Regions from separate parts of the Homo sapiens genome. Here region 1 is linked to region 2. Evidence: fine-mapped expression QTL. A gene starts in region 2. The other region holds a variant in brackets. All regions are shown on one strand. Distances are from middle to middle.

What was found.
Region 1: its variant is fine-mapped to the expression of SLC25A38 in lung (GTEx, PIP 0.98). The same link has a PIP of 0.9 or more in prefrontal cortex.

Annotation. Positions count from the first base shown.
Region 1 is chr3:39,518,535-39,533,880 of GRCh38, reverse strand. It overlaps a transcript of MOBP not described here. Among named protein-coding and RNA genes, the nearest start is that of MOBP, 59 kb to the right of the region's middle. The variant T/C (reference allele first, on the strand shown) is at 7,995.
Region 2 is chr3:39,374,418-39,389,763 of GRCh38, reverse strand. It overlaps SLC25A38 (solute carrier family 25 member 38), which reads right to left and starts at 6,394. Exons shown (of 7, transcript NM_017875.4): 1 at 5,971-6,394; 2 at 148-269. The coding sequence starts at 6,039. LOC105377037 (a long non-coding RNA gene) reads right to left here and starts at 13,252. Exons shown (of 3, transcript XR_001740661.3): 1 at 13,184-13,252; 2 at 12,087-12,288; 3 at 8,612-8,837. It overlaps LOC105377644 (a long non-coding RNA gene), which reads left to right and starts at 5,439. Exons shown (of 3, transcript XR_007096252.1): 1 at 5,439-5,523; 2 at 6,720-6,811; 3 at 8,644-10,333. RefSeq lists enhancers at 5,186-5,255, 5,726-5,775, 5,786-5,885, 5,906-6,085 and silencers at 5,346-5,495, 11,513-11,562.

The sequences.
Region 1 (15,346 bases), 140 kb before region 2:
TTGTTATTATTAATTTCTTCTTTGTTTCCTTCTTTTTTTTTTCATTGTGGAATTTATTAAGGTTTTATTTGAGGGCTAATATATGGTCATTTTCTCAAATCTACCATTGTCACTTATATTCACAGGGATAATAGATTCATAAATGTCCATCACATCTATCTTACTACTTTTGTTATTAAGACTTCTACCTCTTTGCTTTTTTGCCTAGTACTACTGTATTTTGATCTTTATTTTCTTTCATATCCTGTAATTTCTGTATAATAAATGTTGGTGTTGTGTTATTTGTGCACAGATATTCATTACCTTTGTATCAATTGCATACCAGCGTTATATAAAGAGCACTAGTCTCATTTCATAGTTTTTGGCATTAACTAATATTCTTGTTTGATATTAAGATTGTGACCTTCCTTGTCTTTTGTGTGCGTGTGAATGGGGTTATTTTTCAGATACACTTTGCCCATTCTTTTATTTTTAGTCTTTGTGAGTCACTCTGCTCTAGATGTTTCTCTTGTGTACAGTTTGCTTTGTGATCCAATTTGAAAATCTTTTTCATTTAATAGGTTAATTGAATCCATTTACACTTAATAATATAACAAATGTAATTGGCCTTTGCTCTGTTATTATTAAACATATAAGCTCTCTCCTTTTTAAATTTTGAAGCTTGTGGTCTGTTTACTTTTTGCATATTTTCTTCTTTAGAAGGCTTGTGGGAAGGGTAGGGTTAAAGTGGGTCTACCGTCCCTCCATCTTTGGGGTTGCCTGAGGTAGTTTTGACCCTGGTCAGAACTCTTAGAAATATTAACTGATCAAATGTACCAATTAAAAGATAAATGAGGGTGTTGCTGGGTTGCTTTGTACTGAGGTATTGCTTTTTATTTTTTGTTTGTTTTGGACAGCTCACATTTTGTCTCCTGCCTTGGGTCCTTTCATTTCTGCTTGGTAATCTTCCTTCATAGTGGCAATTGATTTCTTAAGGGTTTCTCTTTTTTTTTTAACTCATGGCAAAGTATTGGGATACAAAGATTTTCTGGTATTCTTCATCTGATAGGTTTTGCTGACTTTTTAAATTATACCTTTCCACTGATGCTTGGTCAGCTACCTTTCATTTTCTCAGCACTGAATTAGTTGGATTTTCCCAACTGTCTGTGTGCAAGTGATGGATATCTTTGTTATTTTAAGTTTTTTTGTATGTTCATTTTGGTGTTTTCTGAGGTTTGTCATTGCTTGCTCTTCACCATGCATTTTCATTGCTTTCTCTCTCCCACCCCCTCATAGTTTCAACTCAATCTCCACTGTCTTCCCAGATCCTTCAGCTCCTAAGGGCACCTTAAGACCTGCTGGCCCTGCAGGAGGACACCACAGTGTTTCTTTTTCTACAGAAAATATATTTCTGAAATCCACTGCCAACAGTCCATCTTTCTATTCACTTCACCCAAGCAGCTCCTGAGCTTATTTTAATTGTTTCTGGCAGCCCTAATTTTTGGAAACTTACATCTTATCTGTCTTTAATTTTGCTAAAATGGTGTTTAATTTTAGCATTTAACAACTCATTTGTTGCTTTCTTATGACATACAAAAGAAAGAGAAGGTTACTGATTCACACAAACATGTTTACATTGGAATTCCAACGTAATTTCTTTTCTAGAATAGCCAAAATAATACATGCCATTGACACAAAGAACAATAAACCTATATTTTATATAGGTGCATTTCTACAGGTCTTTTAACAGGTAGGAAATAGTATAGATAGACATTGACCCAAAAAATAGCAATTTAGGCCCTGTCTGGCTTTAGAAATTAGTTAGCCCTGGTTTTCAACATAGGAGTTGAAACCTATGTTTCAACATAGGAGTAGGTCTCAGTGGGAACAAGGAGTCCATTTATTTTCCAAAGGATTAAGCTCAGAACATTTGGGTGGTGTTGCCAATGGGATCAGGAAACTTCCAAGTCAGGAAATGTCTGGCTGAATGATATCATCAGTTCAAAAAACACAAAACTGTAGCTGGAAATTGAGTAACCCACAATGCCTGTGAGTCATTAAGTTGACACAAGGAAGAAGAGGTGTGCTCAATGTCTGGAGTCAGACAAGGTGGCAAAATCAAGAACCCCAGGGGACAGCAGGTCAATACGCAAGTCAAGAAAGCCAGTGACTCGGGCTGCTGGTTCAAATCCCTGCCACATTTCGTACTAATTTTGAAATCTTGGGCCACTTATTAATGGCTTGGAGCTGATTTATTTCTTCTACAAAATTTAGATAATAAAGCTATATATCTGAAAATGTTGTCAAAATTAAACATCTGAAGGGCTTCAGTGTCTGGCACATAGTAAACACTCAGTAAATGGTGACCACATTTTATTAAGCTGAATGAGAAGGATGATGGAGTAAATCTGGGGGGAATCAGGATCCAGCACAAGCCGAAACCTGACCAGAAAAGGTTGAGAACCAGCGTTTTGCTCAATTCAGAGATTCCATCAAGCTGTGGCCTATGACATTTGGTCTTGTTCTGCCTGGATTTGAAGGGTCCAAATGTGGAGTAGCTGCATTATGCCACTTTCTCTACAAGCCTCTGTGACTCACCAAGTGGCCAACACTGGCCAGACAACACATAGAAGCATCCTGGCCACTCACACGCGGGAGAGGGCAGCAACAGCAGGAGCCACTCATCCGTTAGGAAGGGCGCCTCAAGACCTGCCAGCCCTGCAGGGGAACACCAGGCAGTTTCAATTCAAGATTTACTAGGAAATGAGGGATGAGAAGTAGAGTTTGCATAGGTGTCAGAATCTCAAGTGCTCTGAACATCAGCTGTGTCACTTTTAGGTAGGTCTCTAAACCTTATTTTTTTCTCATCTGTAAGCTATTATTGCATTATGGGTAAATAAGATAACATGTTGTCTTATAAAATACCTAACAGCACATAACAAAGTAAATCTTTAACACATGTCAATGGAAGTGGGAAAATGGTATTTAAGGATCTGTGGTGATGGGTAAGTGACTGGATGAGAACAATTCAGTTTTTTCTACAACAACAATTGGAAGCATTGGTGGTTGTGCCTGAACACTTAACAATGATGTCCATTGCATGGTGAGTTTGCTCTGGTGCGGTCAAGCACCTTTAGGAGCCTGTGAACAAGTGTACGCTCCATCCAGTTGGGACGCTCTCAGAACTGTTGTGCTTTAGGGACTACTCCCCTGAGTCCTTGTCTCCCATTTCCTCAGCATTATCCCCTTGTCCCCAGAGACACCTTATGTCCCCAGGAACCTTATGGGTGCCATAAGGTTCAGATAGTGATAGCAAGAGACAGGAAGAAGTAAAGCAGCATCAAAAAGCTACATGATAGAAATCCTTGACATCTGAGTAAGGAAGCAAAGCCAGGGAGATAGAAGAGTGAGTAGCAGGAATGAGTGAATTGTATATGGAACATGATTTTGACTATAAACTCACCTGCCTGTGACTATAGAAATTGACTTCAAGTCCCCAACCTGTGAAGAGAGGAATTTGAACTCCTCAAAATACCCCTAAGTTGTTTTCAGGCATTCACAATGAGGCCAACAAACCAACACACCCCAGTAATTATCATTGAAGTCCCCCTTTTCTTCTCCTCAAGCTGACATTCACTGTCTGCAAAGGCAAGACAAGTCTCTTGTCTCATCCAGGCCCCTGTCACTCCTGTTTACTGAAGATCTAAAGATAGAACCTTCTGGATTTTTTACATACATCCAGGATTTTTTACATACATCCAGGCAATAGGTTTTCAATGGTGTCCAGAGCAGAATGTCCCAAATCCCCACAAGTTACCTGCAGTTATTTAAAGAGCCAGTAAAGGACAGATGCTCCTATGTTGACAGCCTCCCTTTTCACCCTCTCTCCAAGGGTCTCATCTTTTCTTCATAGATATTATGAGCAAGGAGAGCAGTTTGTTTGGAGAAGGAGGCTGTCTTGATTGCTGCGAACCCATTTTAGCTCCTAAGCCCCAGGGTGCGTTGTCCCAGTGACATGCGAGAGAAGAGCGAAGTGACTCAGCGAGGCAACACTGACCATGGCAGGGCTCTGATCTCTCACACACCCATTCAGGATTTATGCACGTATACAACACCAAAGCCCTGCTTCCTGTGTTCCTCGCTTGATCCCACCCAGTTCCCACTTCCATCACGCTGTCCTCTGGACCATCCCACAGTGCTGCCCACTTCTTGCTAACACCAGGTTCCTCCTGCCACCTCCTTCGGGGAAAGTGATTTGACCTCCTAGTTGCACATGTTCAGTGCTGTGCTAACCTGTGTTGATGACAGACCTGTTGTTAGTTGGTTTCCTTCAAATTTTGTGTAAACCATAGTGTGTGTGTAAAATACAGACTTTGCAAATAAACATGTTATTATGGGCACCAATTGGTGTTAAACTGGCCATTTTTTTTGCTCATTTTATTATACATTTAGTTCTTACAGACATCAACTGGCATTATTTTGACCTGTTTTTCCACTTGATTTTTGCATATTTGGTTGTTTTAGTGCAAGTATGTTTTTCCCTAGATATTCATGGTCAAACTTACACCTTGGCATTTTACTTTGTTTCTTCATGTATTTCCTATACTTTATTTTTAAATCTCTTTAGGAGAAGAAGCTCAGTTACAATCTAAATTTTTGTGGAGTATTGTCCCTTTACATTTCTCCTGTTACTTTTTTAACTAGCTTTGATACTTCTCCTTCACCAACATACTGTTTTTCTCTTTGATACTGACCACTTGCTGTTTTGTGTTTATCACTGTCCACTTACCTAACATTTTCTGACATCTGTAAGATTTTCTTCCCTTATAGTGAGTCATAGTGAGCCCTGCTGAGGGTAGAGAAGCTGATTCTGCTTTGCCACCTGAGGCGCACAGACACGTGGTAATAAAAATAACATAGAACGAGGCTGCAGAGCCCCGCACAGAGGAAAGCACTGTTGGATAAATGGCCATAAACAACACAACATAACTTGCAATAGTGCCCACACACTACTAGTTGATAAAACTCAGTGTGGCTTTCATGGGAAGAAGCAGGCCTACTCTGTGCAGCTGCTGCTGAAAGACTAGGAAAAAGTGTGATTTACAAACAATGCTTAAGGTCATCCCTAGCATCACTAGAAGCCCTGATTCTCTCCAATAGGCTTGCATTATTTTCTAGCAAATGAACCACATTTCATGGAGAACTTTGATTTTGTGATAATGTCCTGTGACACTCCCTTCTGACTGTTTTGTCTCCTTATAGAAAGAAACAACACCCTGCATTTTCAAACTGTTGATTATAAACTCTTAAATGTAGACCTCACATAATTGGGGTTCATCAATACACAGCCTTTTCAGTAAACAATGCCAGAAATTCAGGTGCGTTTTTCAGGCAATTTTATTTCATCTTCCTTTTTGCATCCTATGGACTTGTGACTCTCCGATGCCCTAATGAAACCCTGCTTTCTCTCAACATCTAGAATTCACAGACTAATTCTGATTTTTTTTCCCTAGCTTGAGGTATGGAATCAACTATTCTTCCAACAGGCAGTGGTTTCTCTTTTCAGAAAATTGCTTTAGAAGCCACAGGCACTAGGTCTACAAATAAGCTTGTTCCATATTCCAACTAGAATTTGTCAGGATGACAGCAAAAATATCCAAGAGCATAAATCACTGTAGGGACAGAACAGATAAAGTCTCCTTATAAAAAATGTCCATGGGTTCTTATTGACATTTCTAATTTACCTCTATTTTAATATGTTCTTTTGCCTTACTCTAATAAAAAGTTTATGAATCCATTTTTCAACTTTTGAGCAACTAATTTTTCTTGTTTTCATTAATGTTAACAATCACAAAAAGCCATATATTGTCATACCAAATCACAAGTCTAAATTTCACTGCCACCACCCCAAAATGCAGGCGGCTCATATCTTCTCTTCTTTCTTGACCGTCAGCTCAGCCATCCTGAAACCGGCTTTACAGTGTGCAGATCCCATCAATTCTTTGGTCAGCTTCATGTTAGCACCAATATCTGAAAGGAAGGAAGCCCCAGCTTCCATCTAGATGAACACCAAAGAAACTAACAGCTCAGAACACTCAGTATGATACATAGATACGCTGTTTGCTTAATAAAAGATAATAACAGGCCGGGCGCGGTGGCTCATGCCTGTAATCCCAGCACTTTGGGAGGCCCAGGTGGGTGGATCACCTGAGGTCAGGGGTTCAAGACCAGCCTGGCCAACATGGTGAAACCCCATCTCCACTAAAAATACAAAGAATTAGCTGGGCATGGTGGTGGGTGCCTGTAATCCCAGCTACTCGGAAGGCTGAGGCAGGAGAATCATTTGAACACGGAAGGTGAAGGTTACAGTGAGCCGAGGTTGCAATGAGCTGAGATTGCGTGCCATTGCACTCCAGCCTGGGTAACAAGAGAGAAACTCCGTCTCAAAAAAAAAAAAAAAAGGAAAAGAAAAAAAGGAAAAGGTAATAAAAGGTGAATCTAGACAAATACTACTTTTCAAAGTTTCAAAAATATTATCTGTCAATTTTCTCCATTTGAGCTCCCTAATTTGAATTTAGTTTATATTCTCTTTATATTTTTTCTCTTACTAGTGCCTTTGTATATTTATGGAGCACAAATTTTAGTAGTAAACTCTAGCTTCACAGAGGGCCATGGATATATACAGTGGTGCACTGGCACCAGCTTGTGCCAGCTGACGAGAGTCAATTGTGTGCTTCTCTTCCCAATTCTGCATCAAATTTGCCAATTAAAAGACAAATGGTAAACTCCAGAGAATCATGTTCATAGCTTGAAATCTGCATCATGGTCCGGGCGTGGTGGCTCATGCCTGTAATCTCCAGCACTTTAGGAGGCCGAGGCGGGTGGATCACCTGAGGTCCAGAGGTTGAGACCAGCCTGGCCAACATGGTGAATCCCTATCTCTACTAAAAATACAAAATTAGCCAGGCATGGTCGTGGGCACCTGTAATCCCAGCTACTTGGGAGGCTGAGGCAGGAGAATGGCTTGAACCCGGGAGGTGAAGATTGCAGTGAGCCAAGGTCGCACCTTTGCACTCCAGTCTGGGTAACAAGAGTGAAACTCCATCTCAAAAAAAAAAAAAAAAAAAAGGAAGGAAGGAATCTGCATTGTGGAAATATTTACACCATGGAAATTAGCAATCTCTATAAATTAGGCCTTTTTACCCAGAGACCCAGTTGTTGGGTATTTACGAGGAAAACTCTTTTTTCCCAAAATTTTTCCCAAAACCAGTCAAAACATCAGAACATAAAATCAGTTAACATCCAGAATTATCAGTCATATTCCAGATATTATGGTTGAGAATTCCCACTCAAGAAGTTTACACAGAGTAGCTTTTGGAGCTTTATGTAATTTTTGCAATATTTACTGGTAGTGCTCCTCAGAACCAATCCTTAAAAGATAAAAAATATAACTGGATTATAGCACCTTTTAGTTATAATATCCAAGGCACATTACATTTAGCTATTCACCCATTTCAAGTAATTGTCAGATAGTTTTGATTCATCCCCAGAAGGTTTTATTTCCACAACAGACAAACAGAGAATTCAGTAGTTTCTTGTTACTAACATTTCTGGGCTAATATCTAACTTTTTGCATGAATTAATATGCACTATACTCTCACCTCCACAATCATTCCATAGCAAATGTGTGTCTTCTGGATGATGTGGAAGAGAGAGCCCAGCAAGCACTATGGGCCTGGCTTTGCCAAAATCTAAAACAGGCCAAAGGGATATTAAATTTCTTATTTGGTGTGGGTTGGGCTGGGCCAGTAATTTGTTCTCACTTACAGTGGTCTGTCGTATGTTTCACCACCACCACCACCCTGCACCTCACCATGTTATTCCCAGGAATGTAATGGCCTCAGATATCCCATCATTGGAAACACTTCATAGTAGAGGTTACCATTTTGTTGTTTATTTAGCACCTGAATTTAGGCAAGAGAAACATTTCTACCTGAAGACTCCATGCAGTCAAA[T/C]TTCCCTGCCTTTATATTGGAATTTCTACAGAGACCCATGGTCTCCCCAAGTGAGGAAGCCAGGGCACTCAGCCCTCACCCTCCAGCTGCCTTGGGACAGTACTTGCCTGATTCCTCTTTCTGGGGGCGTGGCACTCTGAGCTGTATCTCATCTGGATCTATCACTCTTCCTTCATACTCTGTGGCATTCTCTCTCATCCTAGCCCCATACCCTGAACAAGACTTCATCTGACATTGCCCCTATATTTTTACTTGCCTCTTAAACTTGGCTAGGAATGGTTGTGCCCACTCAAGGACACAGAGCCATGGCCTTGTTGGATCTTTGGGCATCCGACTGTGCTTGGCCACACCAGCTCCTAGCACAAGACTGTTCCTGATGCTCTTTCTTTCCTCTAATCTGACTTCCCCTCTACCCTAGTACTGTCCATTTTACATCCCTCCACATTCTGCAACATTCTATTTTCTTCTTCATTTTCCTACCTATTACTAAACAAAGGTTTGGGTGGAAGGACGTATTTCAACTCTTCCCCATTTTTCCCCAAGTCAGAAATCATCAGAAGCCACAAGAACAAGCCCAGATCCAAAACTGAACCCAAACAAGTATTTTTGTTTTCTAAGACATATAACCTTGAATATACCCCCAGGCTTTTCAACTATCTTTCACCTATCTCTTCAAACAAATATGTCCACCTAATATTGTTAACCGTTTATATATAGCTTTTAATTTGTTATTTCTTCAAACCAGGAATTATTTTAAATCTTTTTTTTTCCAAAAGGATAGTTTTATTTTTGGGATACCCTTTTACTTTGTTGTCATTTTTATTCTATTGCATTATAAGAAAAGTGTGAGACCTTATGGCTTCTGCTTATTGGGCAATATGCAATATAATATTGTGTGTTGTTAAAATTTATGCATAGTATATTATATTACATTTGCCATCTACTATTTGCTTTTCATGTTCCTTATTTTGTCCTCTAAATTTATCTATCTAATGTGTGTATGTCTGATTTGTTTTACCTTCTATTTAATATTTTTATTTATAAATATACCACAGGTGATTCACTCATTCTATTGGTGGACATTTTGGTAATTTCTCATGATCTCTCTCCTATTTTCAATGCCAAACAATGATTCCTTGAACAGATTTACGTGTACCTACTTTTTCTATGAATTCAAGTTTTCTCTAGGATGGGTGCCTAAAATTATTATTGCTTGATCACAGGTTGTACAATTTTCTGCTTTGCCAGTATCCCCAGATTGCAACCCAAAGGTGTCATAATAATTTATAAATTCTCATCAGTAGCTTATGAGAATTTTCCCCACATCTTTGCCAATACTTGATTTTTTTTATTTTTGCCACTTTGATGGTTGTATAACATCTTTTTTTTTTCCACATGTCCCTGGAGAAAGACATGTATCTTCAGATTGAAGAAACTTGAGTCCTGAAGAGAATAAATAAAAATAAATCTGTACTTAGTGACATTATAGTGAAACTTCAGAACACCAAAGACAAAGAGGAAAATCTTAAAAGCAACAAGGAGAAAACACAATTTACTTACCGTGGAAGGATAAGCAGACTGACAGCAGATCTCTCAGTGGCAATTATAGAGGTCAGAAGACAATGGGATGACATCTTCAAAGTACTAATGGGCAGGAAAACCTGTCAAACTACAATTCTATATGCAGCTGTTCAACCCACAGTTATTCCCCCAGTGGTTGTATCTGTGCATCCCCAATTGGCCTCCCTCCTTTCTTCACAAATGGATACTGCTCCTTGACCAAGAGGGTGAGAGGTGTCTGAAGGGTGGCAATCCCAGCCCCTCCCTCTCTTTATGATATTCCCTCAGAAAACATATTTCCATCTAGGTGTGCTAAACCTTTAGATTATAATTTTTTTCTTAGCCATCAGGATGCTGCAGGGATAAATTAAAACTTTCATTTCCCTCGGTTTGTACAATTGCGCTGTGGGGGAGGCAAGTCAGTCATTAATTAAGAAACTGAGGCACAGATGGGTTAAATGACTTTCCCAAACTCACACAGCTAGTGAGAAATAAAACCATGTCTCAGCCCAGTTTTTGTTACATAACTCCATGTCTTTTCCAAGATTGCAGTGTTCTTGCCCATTTTCCTGACACTTTCTTTGAGCCAATACTCTCAAAATGCCAACAACTGGAAGGTGTATTAATTTACTAAATTTGCTCTTATGGGAAGGTATTAAAATTAAGCAAAATAATCAAGATTTAGGCCATAAGTTAAGAAGAAATATCAAGAAATTGAGTGTATGTTTACAAATCAGATGATTTCTTTTAAAAATAAAAAAAAGAAATTATGAAAGAATTAAATTAGTGGGGAGATAAACCTTGTCATGGATCAGAAGAGTTGTTATGTTTAAAAAGTCAGTTCTTCATAAATTGATCTCCAGATCCAATGCAATTCTGATAGAAATTCCAACTGGCATTTTGGTAGAAATTTACAAGTTGATTCTACCATTTATATGGCAATGTCAATGATCAAGAATAATAAAAGAGCAATATTATAAAAGAAAAAATCAAGATATGTATCAGATTATACTGAGAGGCGAATATACTCCAATGAAATCTTACTTTATAAATATTAACTGTAGATAATCCTATATAGAAATACCCATAGAAATATTGCTCAGGGCAGAGGAAAAATGATTTGTAACATCCAAGGATTTTTGATTAGTTGATTGTTTTGTGAAAGCAATTTTTTGTTAGCTTAAGTAGGACCAGGCACCTTGATCATGAGAGTTACTCTGTGGAATAGTGGCAAGGGTTCTTGTGGAAGATCTGACATTGTGTCATCTACTTCTAGATACTCTGAATAATGAAGGCAGAAGACTGCAGTGCATCCAAAATTCACTGGTCACAGAGGAAGGACTCTGCCTATTTCTTTTGCTCTAAATGGATGGCATTAGTTTGCACTTGGTCCTAGGCTAGCACAGGGTCTCTGGCTGCAGCCCTTCAAGTGCTTTATTTCCCACTAGGAAGAAAGTCATATTTTTGCCTAAATCACAGATGAAATTATTGAATAACTGATTGAGCTGGAGGGCAAAACCAACCTGAAAGTTTTAGGACAGGGGTCAGCAACTTACTGCAAATCTTACAGTATACGGAACCTTTTGTGTAAAAGTTGATACTGTGTACATCTTAAGAAAGAGAATGAGATATTTACTTTGATAATAATGACTTTTCTTACTATTATAATTATCTTTTTTAAATGAATTACAAAAATGGGACATTTCTAGGCAAAGTCTGTTTGTTGTAGCAGAGTAGAAAGTAAGCCAAGTCCATACTCTGCCAAATCAATAGCATGATGGCTTAAAAAGTAGATCAGAGGGGGATTTAAGGCCATGGTTTCAAGACTGTTTCCATACATTCCAGAAAACAACAGTTGTCCATATCAAATAATTGGGGGGAGAAATGAGGGACAACATCAAGGTGTAAAGCCATGGTTCTTGCTCTTATGAGGTTTACATTCTAGTGGTGGAGACAAGTAATAATCAAGTACACAAATAAGTATAAGAGCAAATGCAAATAGTGAATAGTGCTATGAACATGTGAATAAGCAACTTTTTTTGTTTTACTGTATGAGCTCTATCTACATGCAAGCTTTATGCTAATTGCTTAATGTGTTTGTTTTTAATTTGTCTTCACTTGTAAAATGAAGCTTAGAGACCTTCATTCCCTTGTCCAAGATCACACAAGTAATAACCTTCAAACAGGAATTCCACTAGAGGGATGTCTGTTTCCAGGTTGCTTTCTCTGAACCACCTTACATACCACCTCTCCCAGTGATGGAGAAGCAATAGCTGCTGTGGTCAACTCCTATTTCTGGTGAGAATGTGAGAGCTAGCCTGATTCCATACCTTTAGTCCAGACCCACCCTCCTCCCATACCCACTCACCACCACAAGACCATCAACCAATTAAAATGAGCACTTGTCAACACAGGTTATGCGCAATGTACCTGTGATTCTTGGTATCAAGCCCCATGTGGGTGGAAGAGATAGTAGCATAAGAGGAGAAGACGGTATTATACACTTAGGTGTGCTCACCTGTCCTCTGAGGTAGTTGCATGAGTTTTGGCATCAAAAGTTATGGTTCGGACACTCTGCTTTTTAGTCGGACATTTTCATTTTTGAGTCTTTACATACTCAGTAAAACCCTAAATGACTTTATCTTTAATACTGTTTCATTTTTTACCCAGTCAGCAAATATTAACCCTGTTGGCCAGCAACACTTGTGATGAGTAGACTTGCCCATGAATTTAGGAGCAGACACTTTCATTTTTATCTTTTAAATATATTACAAATATAAAAGTGTTTAGTGCTGCAGGGTTCCATGAAAGGGGCTCCAAAAGAAAAAGCATTAAGAGTGAAGAGCAAAAGTTGGTTAGTCCCTTAAAAAACTTTAAACGGGGGCTCAGATTTTAAGACAAAATAAATTCTATATTCACATACACACACAAGCCTGATTTTTCCCCTGTATAAAAAATGTCCTGGTATAACAAAACTGGCTGTTGCATTCCCTGTATGAGAAAGTCACTATATAACATTGTTCTAAATTAGTTCTATCCTAATGGTGGCTTTAATGTTTAGAATATACAGCTGTCTGGCCAGGCATTGTGGCTCACACCTATAATCCCAGCACTTTGGGAGGCTGAGGCGGGAGGATTAACTTGAGGCCAGGAGTTCAAGGCGAACCTGGCTAACATGGTGAATCCCTGTCTCTACTAAAAATACAAAAAATTCGCTGGGTGTGGTGGCACACACCCATAATCCCAGCTCCTCGGGAGCTGAGGCATGAGAATTGCTTGAGCCTGGGAGGCAGAGGTTGTTGCAGTGAGCCGAGATTGTGCCACTGCACTCCAGCCTGAGTAACAGAGCAAGACTCTGTCAAAAAGAAAAAAAAAAAAGAATATAGAGCTGCCTTAAGAAGCAGCTTTATAAAGCCTTGTTGGGTGAGATATGTACACTAAAGTTTTTTCATTTTCACAGACAACTTGAGTTTTTCAAGTCAGAAGGGAGAAGAAATTAACGTGAATTGCCAGCCAAACCTCTTGCATGGGCAAAGACCATCCTGAGGTTTACTGTATCAGGAGCCATGACCTCCTGTCAGCATGATTTTTGAGCAAGGAGACATACGGAATTGAAGGGAGGAAACCCACCTTTCCCAAAACACAAGAAGCGGTAGAAAGAAGAAAGCTACAAAAAGTAAAAAGGGAAGACCAATCTCTTTTCCTCTGTCTCTCTCTTCTCTCTCTCTCTGTCTCTCTCTCTCTCTCTCTCATACACACACACACACATACACACACACACACACACACTCATGAACACATTTGGTACTTTGGTACCAGATGTTCCCTCCTCCTTCTCTGGACTGCAGAAATTCTCTTATTAGGACCCCAAGAGCTCACCAAAAAGAAACTTAGACCAGAAGAGGAAAAGTGTCACAAGAGAAGCTGTGTTCAAGTAGACTGAGGACTTTTGAAGACTTAAAAACAATGCAAGCAATAGTAAGTTAAAATTGTAGGTGAACACAAGTTAAGGAAGCAGATTCAGCAGTGATAGAACTTATCCAACATAATCTAATGTAACTGTGTCATCAGGCCATTTGGGAATTAGAGAGACTTGGAGACAGAATGCACTTGGCTATGGGTCAGCACACTTATCAGGGGTCATTGCTGGTGGCTTGATGGTGGGAAACTGCATAAGTCAGAGCAGAGCTGGTTTGGGAAAAATCAGAGTTAGCAGCCAGGGACAAGATCTGGAGAGAGAAAGCAGTGAAGAGGGTATAAAGTCCAGAGCAATAAGAATATGGAAAGGTTGTTAAGTAGCTCTGCTACAAATCTATAAACCAAGATCTTCTTGGTTTAAATTTAAGTTGTAAAAAAAAAAAAAAAAACAGATGTCATGATCAGAGATGTACGCATTGAGGTGAAGAAAGAGATGGAAGATAGGAGTTAGAAGAAGAGAAAGAGGTGGCAGTACAGATTGTTTGGAGGGGCATGGGGAGGCTGCAGTAAATAGAAGGCTGTGGTCTCTTTCTGCCCCTAACTGCTCCTGCCCCAGCCCCTACCTACTGAGGCAGTGAGCAAATCAGATAAGATCTCAAGTCTCAGAAAGAAGCTGCGGTTTAGGAAAATAATGCAGTTGTAGTAATGAATAAATATACTAGACAGCTGAAAGCACTTGATCTTTGAGTCAGAGGAGAAAACGCATAGAAAAGGAAATGAACTAGATGATTTGAAAATAAAGAGTCAACTGGCAGATTACCATGGTAAAAAGATGAAAAGTTAGGGTCATCAGACAATGCCAAAACCCACATTAACAAGAATTGGAAAAAAAAAAAAAAAAAAGATGCCATTTATAGTCTAAGCCAAATAATGAAGTGTCAGCAAGGCATCAGCTGGAAGAAAAAAATTTTAAACTTGGAAAATGATTTTTTAACTGCTGCCAGCCACCAAAGCTCTAGTTGAAAATAAATGCAAAATCTGGCAGCTGGTAGTAGAGATCCTTAATGATCTCCATGAGCAGAAAACTAAGGCTTTGCTAAAAGATCTGACTCAGAAAGCTCATAAGCCCCAAGAGAAAGAACAGAAGCTGTCAGCTACAGGAGAAAGGGATGTTCACAAAGAATTCAAGAAACGCAGGGTGAATTATAGTAAAAAGAGATTACGTAAAAATCTGTTGAATCTCCATGAGAACAAAAACAGGGCAGGATACCAGGCTTTTTCTTCTTCCTGCATCAAGATTTCTTCCTGGAGAGAATAGAGATGCTGCCTTCCTAAGACAAAAATTACAGGTAGCAAACCCAAAGATTGATGTACTTAAGAGATCAAAGAAATAAAATCAAATCCAGGAAGATCCACTAAATAACTTCCATCCATAAGAGGTCCTAGAAGCCAGCCTGGCTCCCATAGGATGCCCCTGTGAGTGCTGAGGTGTTCTAATCCCCACTATGCCATCCATCTGTACTTGTTAGGAAAGAGGTCTGCCTAGCAGTGAATTGGTTGTGAATGGACTTCCACCTTGGAAGAGAAGGATATATAAGGTGTAAAGAAAAACTTTACCCTTTGATCTGCATGTAAACATGATTGAATTAATAGTCAGAATGTCTATTGAGTCCCACTTTCTCTGAATGACTGCCCAACTCTCCTTGATGGTGGATGCAATAGGATTATCTCCATTGCATCATTAATCAAGTAGAACTGCCTGGAGGTAGCATGGGCCACCACCTGAGCCAGGGAAGTATTTTCAGTGTATTTCAGAGACACTGTAATATTGACCCTGGTATGGTTTCATTAATAGAGAATGGCCCAAGAGCTCT
Region 2 (15,346 bases):
AACAATTCAGAGAACATATGAAAGTTGGGCATGGCCTGTGTTTCTCTCTGAACATCCAACAGAATGGAAGTTGACTTAACACAGTAAAGATGTTCCTGTGTCTGAGAAGTTGCTGAAATCAGTTCCCCAATGAAATGCAGGGCCTACCCATGATCTGAGGGCTGGAGGGTTTGCAGGCGTGTTTTAAGGAGATCCAGAGGTTGGAAAAGGAGGGTAGAGCAGGTCCCACTGATGGAGCCACACAGGAAAGCCTTGATCACCGGATGTAACTGCAGGATAAGACAATATTGTGTCAGTAGCTCTGCCTGTGTGAGCCTCACCTTTCTCTATACCTGACCAGCAAATTCCTTTATAATGGTCTCTTAGACACTTACCTGGTGGTGCCTCATGTTTTCTTCATACCTCGGAGAAGGAAAAAGTATAGCCAGAAATTAAAAATACTGCAATGTTATTGAGGACATTGGATGCTGCAAGAGGTATCTCTGGTCTTCGTATTGCTGATAGACATATTGCTCAGTGGGAGCAAAACTATTTCCATGCCACTGACCACTCTTCCCTATTTGTTCTGACTCAAAAAGTTACTGGTCATCTCCCTATCTTTGCAAAAGCAAAGTCAATTGAATGCAGTGCTTTCACTTTGAACTGATGATGTGCAGACTCCCTTCGCTCTAAGACCTATAGGTATTTATAGGACCAAGCCAAAGCAAATGAAACCTTAAGCTCAACCACTGTGTAAAATGTAAGTGCCACTTCCTGTAGAACCTAGTATTTCCTTCATTTAAAACTTTCCCCTTACCATCTCACTGGGCCCTAAGCAGATCACACAGTCCTACAGACCAGTAGCCTCCCCTGGCTTTGCTGCTTCTCCTTCAACCCATGAACCGTCATATACACTGGCTAATCTACAGACACCACCTGGAAGGGTGGAACTCCTTCAAAGACTAAATATACCTCCCTTAGTTCCAGGAGCTGCAGCTTCCAGCACTGGTGCTATCATTACAGGACAGCATCCTTTCTCCAGACCCCTAGAACCCAGTAGTATCACAAATGACTGTGAAAAGGTACTTAAAATCCAACCAGTGACCTTCTTCCCCTTCCCTAAAATAAATAAATAAATAAATAAACAAATAGCTATCTTCTCCAAAAATGTTTGGCAAATTCATCCCCAAAGACCTCTTCCCTTATTAAGTGGCATTTGCACTATTATTTTTTAAATAAATGACACATTGTGGCCCTAAAACATTAAGATGAATATATATAAAGTTTCCATTACACATCACATAACTACTTACCTGGAACTGAAATATTTGTAATCTGCAGTATTTGCTTAACAGAGAAGAGAGTGTATCTCAAATTCCACCAAAGAAGCCAGTTATAACTGGAATTCCTCATAAGACTGTTGGAGGCAGGGGGTGGGGGGAACTAAGGTCATTAAAAACTGGAGTTTACAACCACGATGCAATAACTTCTGAAGTACCAAAGGGTGGTCTGATAAGACAACAGGTAAAACCAAGTAAGGTGTGCGTATTTTAGCAAGTCTGTATCTACATCAACTCCCTCTCCCCAAGAGGTGTCCTGCTCTTCTGCCAACCAATATTCTCATGAGTTCTGTGTTTCTAGTCTCTCCCCAAGACTTTGTGGCATTAATGAGCCCCCCTTCTTCACACACTGGGTCTCTCGCTCCCACTGGCATCTCCTCTTCTGCCAGGCAACAGGCTCCAAAGCATCCATCTTTCCAGCCTGACGCTACACCATCTCCACTTGCTCTGTGCCAGTCCCTCCGCAGGCCCCCCCAGTTTGCTATCCAGCTAAATCTCCTCCACTAACACAGCCTCTGAGGGCTCACCAAGCACCTGCTGCACCCCAGGACCCCGTTCCTGTCCCTGCCCTTATCTTACTTGGCCTCTCTGGTACATGCCATATAGCTGAGTGCCTCTCCTCACAGTTTCTGGTTTCTCTCTCCTTCTCTTCTTTGGCCTGCCCTTCACATAGGACTGCTCCTCTTATCTCCTTTCAGAGTAACCTCACCCATATCCAGGCTTCACACACATGCTGGTAATGCCCACATCTCCAGCCCAGGCTGGCCTCTCCCCAGACTCTGCTAATGTCTCCTTGTCTTCCCTCAAATGGCCCACAGGCATCTCAAATTCAACATGTCCAAAATGGAAACTTGGTCAACAGTTCTCCACACACTTGCCTCTTCTCCAATCCACACTGGGATACTCCAGGAATCCAGGTTGGAAACCTCAGAGACACATAAAACTCACCATGCCTGCTGCTACATGACCAAGTCCCACTGACCAAGCCCTCAATCTTCCCAGTCTGGCCTCCACTGATCCATCCTAATGACCTCTGCAGCAGTCTCCAGCCTCAACTATGCCAACCCACCCTCCACTCTGCTCCCAGAGTAGCACTGGGCGAGGCATCTATAGACACCACCTCAAAATCTCATAGCATCTTATGAGCTAGGTATTTTAAACCCGTTTTACAGATTAAACTGGAGCTCACAGAGGTTACAAATGTGTCCTATGTCACAGGGGTTGAAGCCACTGGCCAGGACTTAAAGTTCATACTCTTTTCACCATACCACCCAGTCTAAAGTGAAAATCCAGGATACTTAGGCCACTCAGTGCATTCCACTATTCACCACCACTCCCTCCTTGAAATGCTCTCTTCCTTTGGCTTCAGAGATTAATACTGTCCTGGGTTTCCTCCCACTTCTCTGGCCTCTCCCTTAAATGAACCATACTCCCATGGCTCTTCATCCACTTCCAAGGGTTCCATTTCCACCCTCCCCTCCACACTCTCAGCCTCTCGCTGGAGCTCAGTCTCACACAGCCACGTACTCAGATGGCCACCTCAGATGATGTTTCCAAACCTGAACTTACCTTTCTCCCACACCTCCGACCAGCTCCTCCTCCAAGGTGCCCCATCCCAGTGAATGCCATGCCATTTCTCTAGCACCCCAGCCAGAAACCTGAGCACCATCCTTGGACTTGGCCTCTCCACACTTGTTCACTCTATCTCCAAAACAGCTCTCAAATCCACCAATCCATTCCAGCTGAGAACCCTGTTATCTCTTGCCTTGGTGACGGCCACCAATTTTTTACCCATTTGTCATCTATATGACCCCTCTAATCCACTCTTTACCCTGAAGCCATAGTCATCTTCTGTTTTATTATTTATTTAGAGACAAGGTCTTGCTCTGATGCCTAGGCTGGAGTGTAGTGGCACAATCATGGCTCACTGCCAACCATGACCTCTCAGGCTCAGGTGATCCTCCCACCTCAGCCTCACGAGTAGCTGGGACCACAGGTGTGTGTCACCGTGCCCAGCTAATTTTTTTGTAGAGACGGGGTTTCGCTATGTTGCACAGGCTGGTCTCAAACTCCTGGACTCAAGCAATCTGCTCACCTCTGCCTCCCAAAGTGTTAGCATTATAGGTGTGGGCCACCATGCCCCGCCTGAGTCATCTTTTAAAACTGCAAATTTGATCATGCTGCTTTCAGAAATAAAACCCTTCAATGAAAGATAATGTTTTGTGAAATTTGAAGTTACTAGCTTAAAAACAAGACCAAAAAAAAAGATGGAATAAAAATACAAGTAATGACAAATGTATTAGGAGCTACAGAGTATCCCACAAATTTGTCATTAATACTAATTGAATTATAATTTTAAAAAACCCAACCAAACCAATACCCTTTAATTGGTTCATATTCCTCTCAGGATAAAGTCCAAACTGCTGGTTGCAGGGCCTTTCATGTATCACAGGGCTCCTGCTAACCGTTTTGGCCTATGTTCTCACCCTCCCACTAACACACTCTGCAGCCATACTGGAGGACTCCGCCTTACTTTCACCTCTGAAAACTCTGACATGTTGTTATGCCCTAGCACCGGTCTTGCTCCCTAACTCCCCCATGTCCAAGTTCAGTGCCTCTCCTTCCGGCTTCTACAGCAACACCTGTCCCCATCTCCCTTATGACTGCGTGTCAAAGACAGAATAGTCACAACTCCTGCCTGTCTTGTTCATGGTGATATCTCAAGAACTGACCTCGGAGCCTGGTGCACAGTAGGTGTTCAGCAGTGACAGCGGAATGAATCTTACCACCTAACAGGAAACCTTATGCTCTCCCTTTGAGCACAATCCCACATGATAGGGCTCGGTGGGCCCTGCATGACTCATCCCAGGATGGGTTAATCTCCCCCACCTCTCTCCAGGCCCCTTGCTCCAGCAAGGCTATAGGAATGACCTGCAGTTAGTTTCTGGGCAGTTATGTTAGGCGCTGCTTCCCCAGTGCTCACACAGGTGCTGTGTGGAATTTGTTTTAAAACAAATTTGCTGCTGTCCTTGACCTTCCCACCCTTGATTGCAGGAAATATCTTCTTAACGTCTTTTATTTCACAGCACAGTGATTAGACATGTTATTGGCTCAAGTTATTGAGCCAATAACTTTTTTAGCTTTGTACTTTTCCCAGTCCATTAGCACAGAGCAGATGTTATTTATACTAGCAGTATAGATCAACTTCTAATAGGCAAAAACAAGACAACAACAACAACAAAAACCATCCCAACAGGTAATACTGAATGGTCTTAAGATTTTTGTCAATGGTGAATGGCACACATCCTTTGCGAGTGAACTTAACTTTTAAAAAGTAGCTCAAGGCCAAGCGCGGTGGCTCACACTTGTAATCCTAGCACTTTAGGAGGCCGAGGCAGACGGATCACTTGAGGTCAGGAGTTCAAGACCAGCCTGGCCAACATGGTGAAACCCTCTCTCTACTAAAAATACAAAAACTAGCCGGGCGTGGTGGCGCACGCCTGTAATCCCAGCAACGTGGGAGACTGAGACAGGAAAAATACTTGAACCCGGGAGTCAGAGGTTGCAGTTGAGCCGAGATCACGCCACTGCACTCCAGCGCGGGCGACAGGGCGAGACTCTGTCTCAAAAAAAAAAAAAAAGAAAAAAGAAAAGAAAGCTCAAAAATATATTCAAGGTAAATAAAAAAGTAGTTTCTTTTTAAGGGGAGAAAGAAGAGGGCATAAACAATAATACGCACACGAAATAAGTAGCACATAAGAGTACAAACTGGATCCACAAGCAATTCCTACTGCCCTGAAAAAACTATCCTAAGTCCAATTCACATCTGGAGGCGAGGGCTGGAGAGCCCTGAAAAAGGTAAGCAGGTTTTCAAAGACGTCAACGTAAAGTCGCCACCGCCGCCGTCTCCGCCTTTAAGGATTAAAAAAAAAAATAAAAGCCGCCCCTACCTCGGGCGCAAGACCTCAGAGGGAGAGCTGCGGCAGCTGCAGTGGCCTCAGGCCTTTAGCGTCTAAAGACTGGTTGCACCCCGACTCCACCTACCGGGCAACCACGCCGCCAGCCCCGCCTCCGCCTCCACCAATAGCGGCCCGGCGGCCCGGGCACGATGACCAATCGAACGCCGGAGGAGGCGTGGCGTCGCTGGGGGACCACGCGCCGTCCCAACAGGCTGGAAGGGTGCCGCCACGACTGGCCCCTCCAGGTAGGCCGCCGCCCGCGGGCGCACAGCGCTACCCGGCCAGCTCGCTGCGGCATCAACGGCTTCTCAGCGTCAGCGCTATTATCAGGCCTTGTGACCGTCCCAAATCTGCCCGGGTGCCCTTCCACCTGGCAGCCTACTCGCACCTTGTGGGGGCCGCGCGGGCACACTCCCCGGCACGCGTCCAGTCCAGGCCCCGGCAATTCCGCCCTTTACCGGGACATCGGCCCTACAGCGCCTGCCCCCAGGGCTGGCCTGCAGCTCCTGGCCTCTCCTCACTCCCTGCCCCCTTCTCAATTCCCTTAGTCAGACTCCTCTCCCGCCGCATCCTAAATCCTGAGCGCACCCTGGGGCGCGGAAAAGGGTAGCCGAGCCTTAGCAACGCCCCGAATTCTCCGGCCCGAGCCCGCGGTTCGGACCCCTGCCCTTCCTTCCCCGCAGTGCCCTCACCATAAGCGTTTCCACCGTGTCTCCGACATCTTGGGGTTGCAGCAGCGACGGACGTGAGTTCTGAATCATTGGAGATGAGGCCCGCGAGTCCTCTGGGCCCAGGGTGCCGTCGACGGGCGCTTGGGCCCAGCCCTGGAGGCCTTGAAGAAGGCTAGGGGGTGGCGCTAGCCAGGCGACGCGCTTTAAGCCGCGGGCTCTCTGACGTCTGCGCCTATAAGCACGCAGCCGCCGGGGTTCGGATCCTGCTAGTCCAGGGGCTGCGGGCGCGGAACAATCTTGCTGCGGGAATTACGCGCCGCTCTTCACCCGCGCCGCAGACTCCGCGGCTCTGCTCTCCTGCCCATCCTGCCCTGCTGCAGGCTTCAGCACCGTAGGAGATGAGGTTCTGTGTATCCCGGGGTGGAGGAAGCGCCGGAGGAACTCTGTAGAAGGGGAGATTTCGCTTCCGGGTGGGACGCTTGTCACGTGAGGGTGTTCTGAGTGCCACCTGGTGAAAACGCCCAGAACTGAAGGATCCGCGCTTCCTTGCACCCAGAACTTAATGGAGCGTCTGCAGGGAACTTTGCTTTTGCGTGGAACGTCTGAACGTATTTACAATCCAGACCTGGTCTGCCCAGTAAGGCAGCCACTAGCCAACGTGGGCTATTGATTTATTAATTGATACATTAATTTTAATTATATTAAAACAAGCAGTGTGGAATGCTTTCTCCTTAAACAGGCGTTTTTTTGTTTTGTTGTTTTTTTTTCAGGACCATATTTCCCTTTAAATGCTGAAAATTTAGTGTGGAATTGATATGTACTGTATGCATAAACCACACGCTGGATGTCTAAGACTGGTGAGGTAAAATCTCAATAATTTTTATATGTTGAAATGATATTTTGGATATATTGGGTTAGGTGAAATATTAAAATTAACTTCAGGCCGGGGGCAGTGGCCCAGGCCTGTAATCTCAGCACTTTGTGAGGCCTAGTCTGGAGGATTGCTTGAGGGAGCCAAGGAGTTGGAGACCAGCGTGGACGACAAAGCAAGACCCCGTCTCTAAAACAAATAATAATAACTTCATGTGTTTCTTTTTAAATGTGGCTAGTAAAACATTTAAACTTTAACATGTGGCTCCCATTACATTTCTGTAGGACAGCGCTGGTCTAGTTGGTCAAAATTCTGGTTTATTGCTCACCTGGAATCTGTCAATGGCTTTTTTGGTCTCCCAACTTCCCCTTATGCCTGTCTGGCTGATCCATGGAAAAGCATTACTGCTGGGATCCTGACACTCCTGTTGAAAATGCAGTGGCCCTGGTAATAAAGTCCAAGCTTTTCATAGCAACCTTCGCTACTTTCCACCTTCATTCATCACCCAAGAACTAGATCAGAAAGGAAAGTGACTTAGGGAGCAAGATAATATTTTTTCAGGCTTCATTCCTGTGCTTCTGAGGTACATAGAACAGGAAGGAAAGTGGTCCCAGAGGAGGTTATTCCCAGAAAGGATTAAGGAAAGTATAAACATTAAAAAAAAAAAAAAAATTACAGGCCGGGTGCGGTGGCTCACGCCTGTAATCCCAGCACTTTGGGAGGCCGAGGCGAGCCGATCACGAGGTCAGGAGATCGAGACCATCCTGGCTAACATGGTGAAATCCCGTCTCTGCTAAAAATATAGCCGGGTGTGGTGGCAGGCGCCTGTAGTCCCAGCTACTCGGGAGGCTGAAGCAGGAGAATGGCGTGAACCCAGGAAGTGGAGCTTGCAGTGGGCCGAGATCGTGCCACTGCACTGCAGCCTGGGCGACAGAGCGAGACTCCATCTCAAAAAACAAAACGAAACAAAATTACAAACCTGCCTGGTGATTGAATACTTTGCTACCCTTTGTTCTAAGCTGCAAGGCTTATTTTTCTTTGTGCAGTAGTGATGTTGATAACTATGCACTGAAACTTCTTTTTAAAGGAAGACCTAATTCCACCCTGACACCCACCCCCGCTGCACTGATTCCATAAGACAAGAATCCCTACTTTTGAGAAATCATGGGTTGGCGTATTTTAGAGACTGCTCTTGGCCACTCTGGGTGTGGGAACACAGGTGGGATCTAGAGTGAAAGCCGGCCCTCCACTCCCTCACCCTTCCAGGTATGCCTGCTTGGCTGTGGGCTCAGAAGAAATGGGCTGGCTTTCAAGGGTGGCAGCTGGCAGATTTCCCTCCTCTGTATCTGCTCCTGCCATGCTTACTCATAACTCTAAAGCCCACAGGCCCTTCTTTTCCCACATCTCCTCCCCTGGATGTTTGTGGGGATGCAGAGATATATAATGATCATGGGGAAAGAGCATCACCCATTGGCAGATGAGTGGGGGGTTTGGAGCAGTACTTAATGGCAAAGTTGGAGGAGTGAATTTTTTTTTTTAAAAAGAAAACATTGTGACTTTAATTCAAAACAAGGTCATTAGCATAAGGCAAGCCTTAATGGATTTATCTGCAGTCAAGGGAAGGTGATTTGGCTCTTATGACCTAACTTCCCTCAATTACACACTGGTCCCTCAAAGATCCAAAGTGGCCCATGTTTTCTGGATTGTATGATCAGGTTACATGATGTTTTCCCATCCCAAGGATTGTAGACACCCTCTACCCAGGAAGAAATACACATGTATCAGTTTGGATACATGACCTCCTCTTAAAACTTTATTCACAGCAAGTCTTGACATCTGGAGGAGTTTCCACCATCCAAGAAGGAAAAGGCAAAGGTCCACATGGGAAGCTGGAGGTGAATGGGAGAGACAGAGGCTGCTCAGATAGGGGCTTTGGTTTCCTGTCTGCCTGTCAGAGCAGGAGGAGGTGGGCCTTGCAGCACCTTGCATCTGCGTCACTTCATTTGTAAGAAGATGGCTGGAATGGTGAAAAGCACACAGGTAAATCACTGCCCCCACCTCCATGTTTCCAGCAGACCAGCTCAGCAAGATCTTTCTACCTGCCTGGAGCCAGAGCTGCTTCTGGAAATATCTAAATTTTCTCTTCTACTGATGCCAAAACAATGAGGCCAGCCTTTGCCTTTTGGAAACCAATAGGGGATTGAGAGGGGAGATACCATGCATTCTCTCTGCTACAACCTCCCTTACCGCCCATCTTCATCAGTCTCTCTATGCCTACTGGCCTCTCAGGTCTAATGGGCATCTTATGATAGTCTTCGTCCTGTAACTAATGGAGGCTCCTCTCCATCTGAATATCTGCTCCCATCCTAAACATGCACAACCTGAAAGAGAAGCCTTAAGAGTCTCCAAGGGCACTGTCTTCACCAGTGGGGGAAGCCACTCTTTGCCTGATCACAAGAATGGGTGAATACTGCAGAAAAAAAGGGAATTCTAATGGCTTTACCCAGAAACTTCCACAAAGAGGATGGTCCTGTCACTGCTTTTGGCTTCACAAGAAGGAAACACCTTTCTTCCTTCTGTGCCAGTGACTATTGCCTGTAACCTCACCCCTGAGCCAAGGGTGACCAGGCTACGAGAGAACAATGAGTTAGAGCGGCTTACAAGCTGGTATCCGAGGGAGGGGCAGATGGCTCTGTGGGGTGGACTGCGTTCCTGCAGGAGTGGGATCTTCACATTCTACTCCAAGGACCAAGTTGTTAGGGGCAGTGGAAGGGAGAGGAGCCATGGTGCGTGCCCAGGCAGTGTGGTGTTTTGTGTTTTGTCATATGGAAGCCACAAGTCACTCCATCAATATTTTGACAAAGCAGTTCCCCATCTTATGGAAAAAATCAAACTCTTCTTGTTTTCCTGCTTTCTTCACAATGAGGAAACGGGCAACATTTTGGCTAAAAGTTTATAAACATAAGCACATATTTTCTGGTCACAAATCTTCTAGGTCCTGATTGATCTGAATTTCCCACAGGGGTAAGCAGGACCCACTTGTGGTTTTGTGGTTTGCTTATAGCTCTATCCATATGTGGAAGGTTTTTTTTTTTTTTTTTTTGGAGACAGAGTTTCACTCTCGTTGTCCAGGCTGGAGTGCAATGCTGCGATCCCGGCTCACCACAACCTCCGCCTCCTGGGTTCATGCAATTCTCCTGCTTTAGCCTCCTGAGTAGCTGGGATTATAGGCATGCGCCACCACGCCTGGCTAATTTTGCATTTAGCAAAATTAGCAAAATGTTGGTCAGGCTGGTCTCAAACTCCCGACCTCAGGTGATCCGCCCACTTTGGCCTCCCAAAGTGCTGGGATTCCAGGCATGAGCCACCATGCCAGGCCAGCTTTTCTTTATCTTGGACAGAATGACTTCATTTATAAGCAGCATCTTGTGTAACAGTCAGTTTTATGTGTCAACTTGGCTAGGCTATAATACCCAGTTTTCAATTAAACACTAATCCAGGTGTTGCTGTGAAGGTATTTTGTAGATGTGGTTAACCTCTGTAATCAGTTGACTTTAAGTAAAGGAGATTATCTTTCATAATCTGGATGAAAGAAAATCAGGACACATATTTCCCTGACAAATACACCTTGTTTCCCTTCCTTAAAGGGTAGAGGCTATCTCCTGCTTTTTTCTGTGTGTCTTTGAGAGACCACTGAGGCAGAGTAATGCTGTAAAAAGAAAGTGGACTTTGGAATCAGGCATTGATTCTGTATTTGATCCTGGATTTGTCACCTGCTAGCTGTGTATTCACCTCAACTTTCTTGTTTGTTATTTTGAGATAAGTCTTGTGCTATTGCCCAGGCTGGAGTGCAATGGTGTAATCTCAGCTCACTGCAACCGCCGCCTCCCGGGCTCAAGTGATTCTCCTGCCTCAGCCTCCTGAGTAGCTGGGATTACAGGCGCACATCACCACGCCCAGCTAATTTTTGTTTTTTTAGTAGAGATGGAGTTTCACCATGTTGGCCAGGCTGGTCTCAAACTCCTTACCTCAGGTGATTGCCTGCCTCGGCCTCCCAAATTGCTGGGATTACAGATGTGAGCCACTGCGCCTGGCCAGTTTATGGGCCTTAATTAGAGGTCAAGAGTGAAGCCTCCCATATATAAAATTAAATACTTAGGGTAGATTCAGTGGCTCCGGCTTGTAATCCCAGCATTTTGGGAGGACGAGACAGCAGGATCTCTTGAGCCCAAGAGTTCAAGACCAGCCTGGGCAACATAACAAGACCTTGTCTCTACAAAAATAAAAACAGTAGCCAGGTGTGGTGGAATGAGCCTGTAGTCCCAGCTACTCGGAAGGTGGAGGCAGGACAGTCTCTTGAGCCCAGGAGTTCAAGGCTGCAGCAAACTATGACTGCACCACTGCACTCCAGCCTGGGTGACAGAGCAAGACCCTGTGTCTATGTTTTTTTAATTCCAAATACTTACCAAACATCTGCATTTTTACCAAAAATCTCAAAGCAGAATTTCTAATGACAGATTAGGTATGTAAATTAGAAGTCTTTCCCTCTGGCCCCTTTGTTTCTTAACACGCGTGGCACTCCATCATCTGCCATTCTTTCCCATCTGTTCTCTTTCACCCAGTCAGAAGCTCAGCTCAAACTGGCCACTAGAGGGAACACGTGTCCTGTTCCCAACAGGTTCTGGGTCCTGGCTTCAGGTGTCTGTAAATTACCTGATAGTCCCACTGGCATTGTCACTGAGCTACTGGCCTTGGGTGTACCAGGGTGAAGGCACTGGCCCTTGGTCCCAGACGCTGCCCCTTTCCAATTCCTCATGTATGCTTCATCTGTCTGGTCTATACAGGAGACCAGCTGTGGTGGGAAAGTATAAGGAGATGCCAGGAGTGGCTTCGGATAGAAGTGGAGAGAACACTGAACTAAAAGTCAGGAGTTTCTGATGCTAGTCCAATATCTGACAAAAACTCATTGTCACCTCTCTAGGCTTCAGCTTTCTCACGTGTAAGATGAGGGCCTTGAACTAAGTGGCTCCAAGTTCCTTTTCTGGGCTAATATCATATGAATCAGGGATCATGATCTCCAGACTCCCTTGGTCCTGACTTTCAGGCTAATGCAAGCCACAGAGGAGATATAGGAGATAGGCTGGGGCACAGATTGCACTGAGGAAAATGCATATGCATAAACAAAGTTTTGCCAACAGTTCTGTATTATTTAGAGCACCCCTGCAAGCCCAGTTAAACCCTACTGGTGTAGGGGGTTTCAACATACCAGGGACAGCTTTAGCAATCTTAGTAAGGTCTGCTTCTTTAAGGAATTGCACAGAGCACCAACAACCTGGAAGTCTTGTCCATGACCCATCCACAGTCTTCTCCATGAACTCATTGTAGAGCCTCACCATGATGGGGCTCCAGCTGGCACTGGGGAGGGAGTAATCCTTTGTATCAGACTGGAGGTGGCTACTGCTTGAGACCTGAAAAGTCCAAAAGGGGTGGTGGACTGTCCCCAGTACCTTCCGATTTGACTCATTCATTCAAGCATTTACTAATAGATGAGTCTGTTTTCATCTTGCAGAGCATGTACAAATACCCAGAGGTAAGAGAGAGCATGTCAGATTCCTAGAACTGTAAATGTGGAAACGTCTAGTAGGAGGGAAGGAATGGAAGGGAGGAGGCCAGAGGGAGAGCCTGGGGCCCTCCATCAACCATGTAGGAGAATGTAGGCTTTATGCTGAAGAGGTTTAAGCAGGAGAATGAAAGGGTCAGATTTGCATGTTAGAAGGATTTCCGTACACGGGAAGTTACAAACTGGTCAAGTCTCACTCACACTGGAGAGCCTTGCTGATATGCAATTCAAAGACACATTCTTTCCCCTGCCTGTTTCCTTTCAGCTTCCAGCTCCTCTGTGCCTCCCTCTCCTGCTCCCCAGTTCCTTCAGGTTCTGCTTCTAAGACGGTTCACCTTGTTTGACTATGTAGTTTATTTTATCTCCTTACTGTCCTATTACAATCAGAAGGCTCAGCCATCATCCTGGCTAACACAGTGAAACCCCATCCCTACTAAAAATACAAAAAATTAGCCGGGCATGGTGGTGGTTGCCTGTAGTCCCAGCTACTCGGGAGGCTGAGGCAGCAGAATGGTGTGAACCCGGGAGGTGGAGGTTGCAGTGAGCCGAGATCGCGCCACTGCACTTCAGCCTGGGCGACAGAGTGAGACTCCATCTCAAAAAAAAAAAAAAAAAAAAGGCGGCTCAACCAGAGACTCCCTTTTCTGGGAGACAGAGTAGATGATTGAGTCCAGATAGCTAGTCCTCCCCACTGGGAATTTTGGATAATCCATCACATGACAACACCTTCTTTTATCTTCTACCTGGTTATTGTTTGAATTCACTGGTGCCAATCCGTCCTTCCTGTTCTTGGTACAGTTTCTACTTTTTCTGGTGCAGTTTCTACTTTTTCTGGTGCAGTTTCTACTTTTTCTGGTGCATTAATCTGGCTTACTCACAATTCCCTCTATATGCTCTTCTCTACCTAAACAGATGGAGAGAAACATAGCTTCTTAAATTACTTATAAATAGACAAGTTCTTAAAGGCGAGGGGTCAGGTGTGAAGGAATGATCAACAATTGTTACTGCCATTCTGCAGGAAGCTCTTCTTTTGTGAGCTAGTGGATGGTAGTGGCATTTGAATTCAATCTCGGAAACTTTTTCCCATTAATATGCCACACTTACTGCTGCTTGTCACTTAACTGCTCTGAGCATCAATGTTCAAATGTGTAAAAATGAGAATAACACCACCCTCCCTGCAAATTGCTGTGCAAACTGCATGAGGTAGTGATAATGTGAATGGACCTGGCTCAGTACCTGCCAGAGCAAGCATTCCAAGATGCTAGTTTCATCTGAATTCAACAGGAAAAAAATCTCTCCTTCTCCAGTTTGAGCCCAAAGAATTTTTTAAGCAATGATTATATTAACGAAGCCTGGACTGAAATCTTTTTTGGGATGAGGTTACTCATGAAAATATGAAAGGGATGACATCCAGTTGATGCTACTTCTTAGCACTTAAATTGCACACAATTCACTTTTAATTCTGCCTATTTTTTTTCTTTTTTTTTGAGATGGAGTCTCACTCTTGTTCTCCAGGCTGGAGTGCAGTGGCATGATCTCAGCTCACTGCAACCTCCGCCTCCCGGGTTCAAGCAGTTCTCCAGCCTCAGCCTCCCGAGTAGCTGGGATTACAGGCACCCGCCATCATGCCTGGATAACTTTTGTATTTTTGTAGAGATGGGGTTTCACCGTGTTAGCCAGGCTGGTCTTGAACTCCTGACCTCAGGTCATCTGCCTGCCTCAGCCTCCCAAAGTGCTGGGATTACAGGCGTGAGCCACTGTGCCCGGCCTAGAAATTATCTTATTAAAATGTAACTGCTGCTTTCCCTCCAGGTGCTACTGCTCAGATTTTCTTTCCCCATTTCTACCCACACTAGGGTTTGACAATTCAACTTTCCCACATCAGAAATGTTCAAGAGAAACTAGAGGATGGCTACAGAGTCAGTAAGAGTGAAGGGACCTCTAGGTACTGTCTCTTAGCCCTTGGTGGCCTCACTTTGAGATCCTCACCCCTCAAAATAGGCTAACAGAGCCAAGTGTAATGAGCACCTTCTAAGAATCAGGAGCCCTGGCCCTAAGTCTTCATGAATTTGCCAATATCTGCTGTGGCCTTGGGCAGGCCAACTTGTATTTCCAGGCCTTAGTTTCCTCATCTGTCAAAGGAGAGCAGCAGATCGAATACTATCTAAGGTGTTACTTGTCTCATTCTGGGGCTCTATGACCAGCCTCAGCTGCCCAGCATCTGGCGATGAGGACACACACAGTGATGAGCTGGACCAGCTGATCTGGGTGGCAGGTGCTTGCCAGCCAGAGCTTGGAGAAGGGGTGCTGCATGTCGGCACCCCACCAGACATCTGAGACCTCTCTGCAGCACGACATCCAGCTGAGATCTGCCAACTGAACCTCCTCACAAAGGCTAGCTTCACTCCTATTAGATGAGCATTGGCCTGAGGTTCTTCCTCAGCCAAGCAGAGCCTGTCTTTGTCTCCTGAGAGGCAGAGGACAGCAGCAAAACCCACCCCCTTGCCTTGCCAGGCAAAACACTAAGCAATCATAAGTTAGTAAATTACAAATGCATTTGATGTGTAGAGCTGCCAGGAATTTTGGTTGTGTTAACCAGGTACCTGGAATAATTGGATCAATCTTAGAATGTTTTGCATGCCAAGGGTCACTAAGGTAACCAACAATGACTAGGAACCAACAATGACAATCAGTCCCTGCATGTAAGGACAGTTGGCCCTGGGCACCTCACCCTAGTTCTTAGCTCTGTCTTGTTGTAGGAGCCCAGTTTCTTCATTCACTCAAAAAAATTAAGCACATATTATGTGCTCTAGGTTCTGGGGATATGGTACTGAACAAAACATGGCTTACATCCTATAGGTAATGACTAATTATTGTGCTTTCTACACCCCAGGTACTGTTATAAA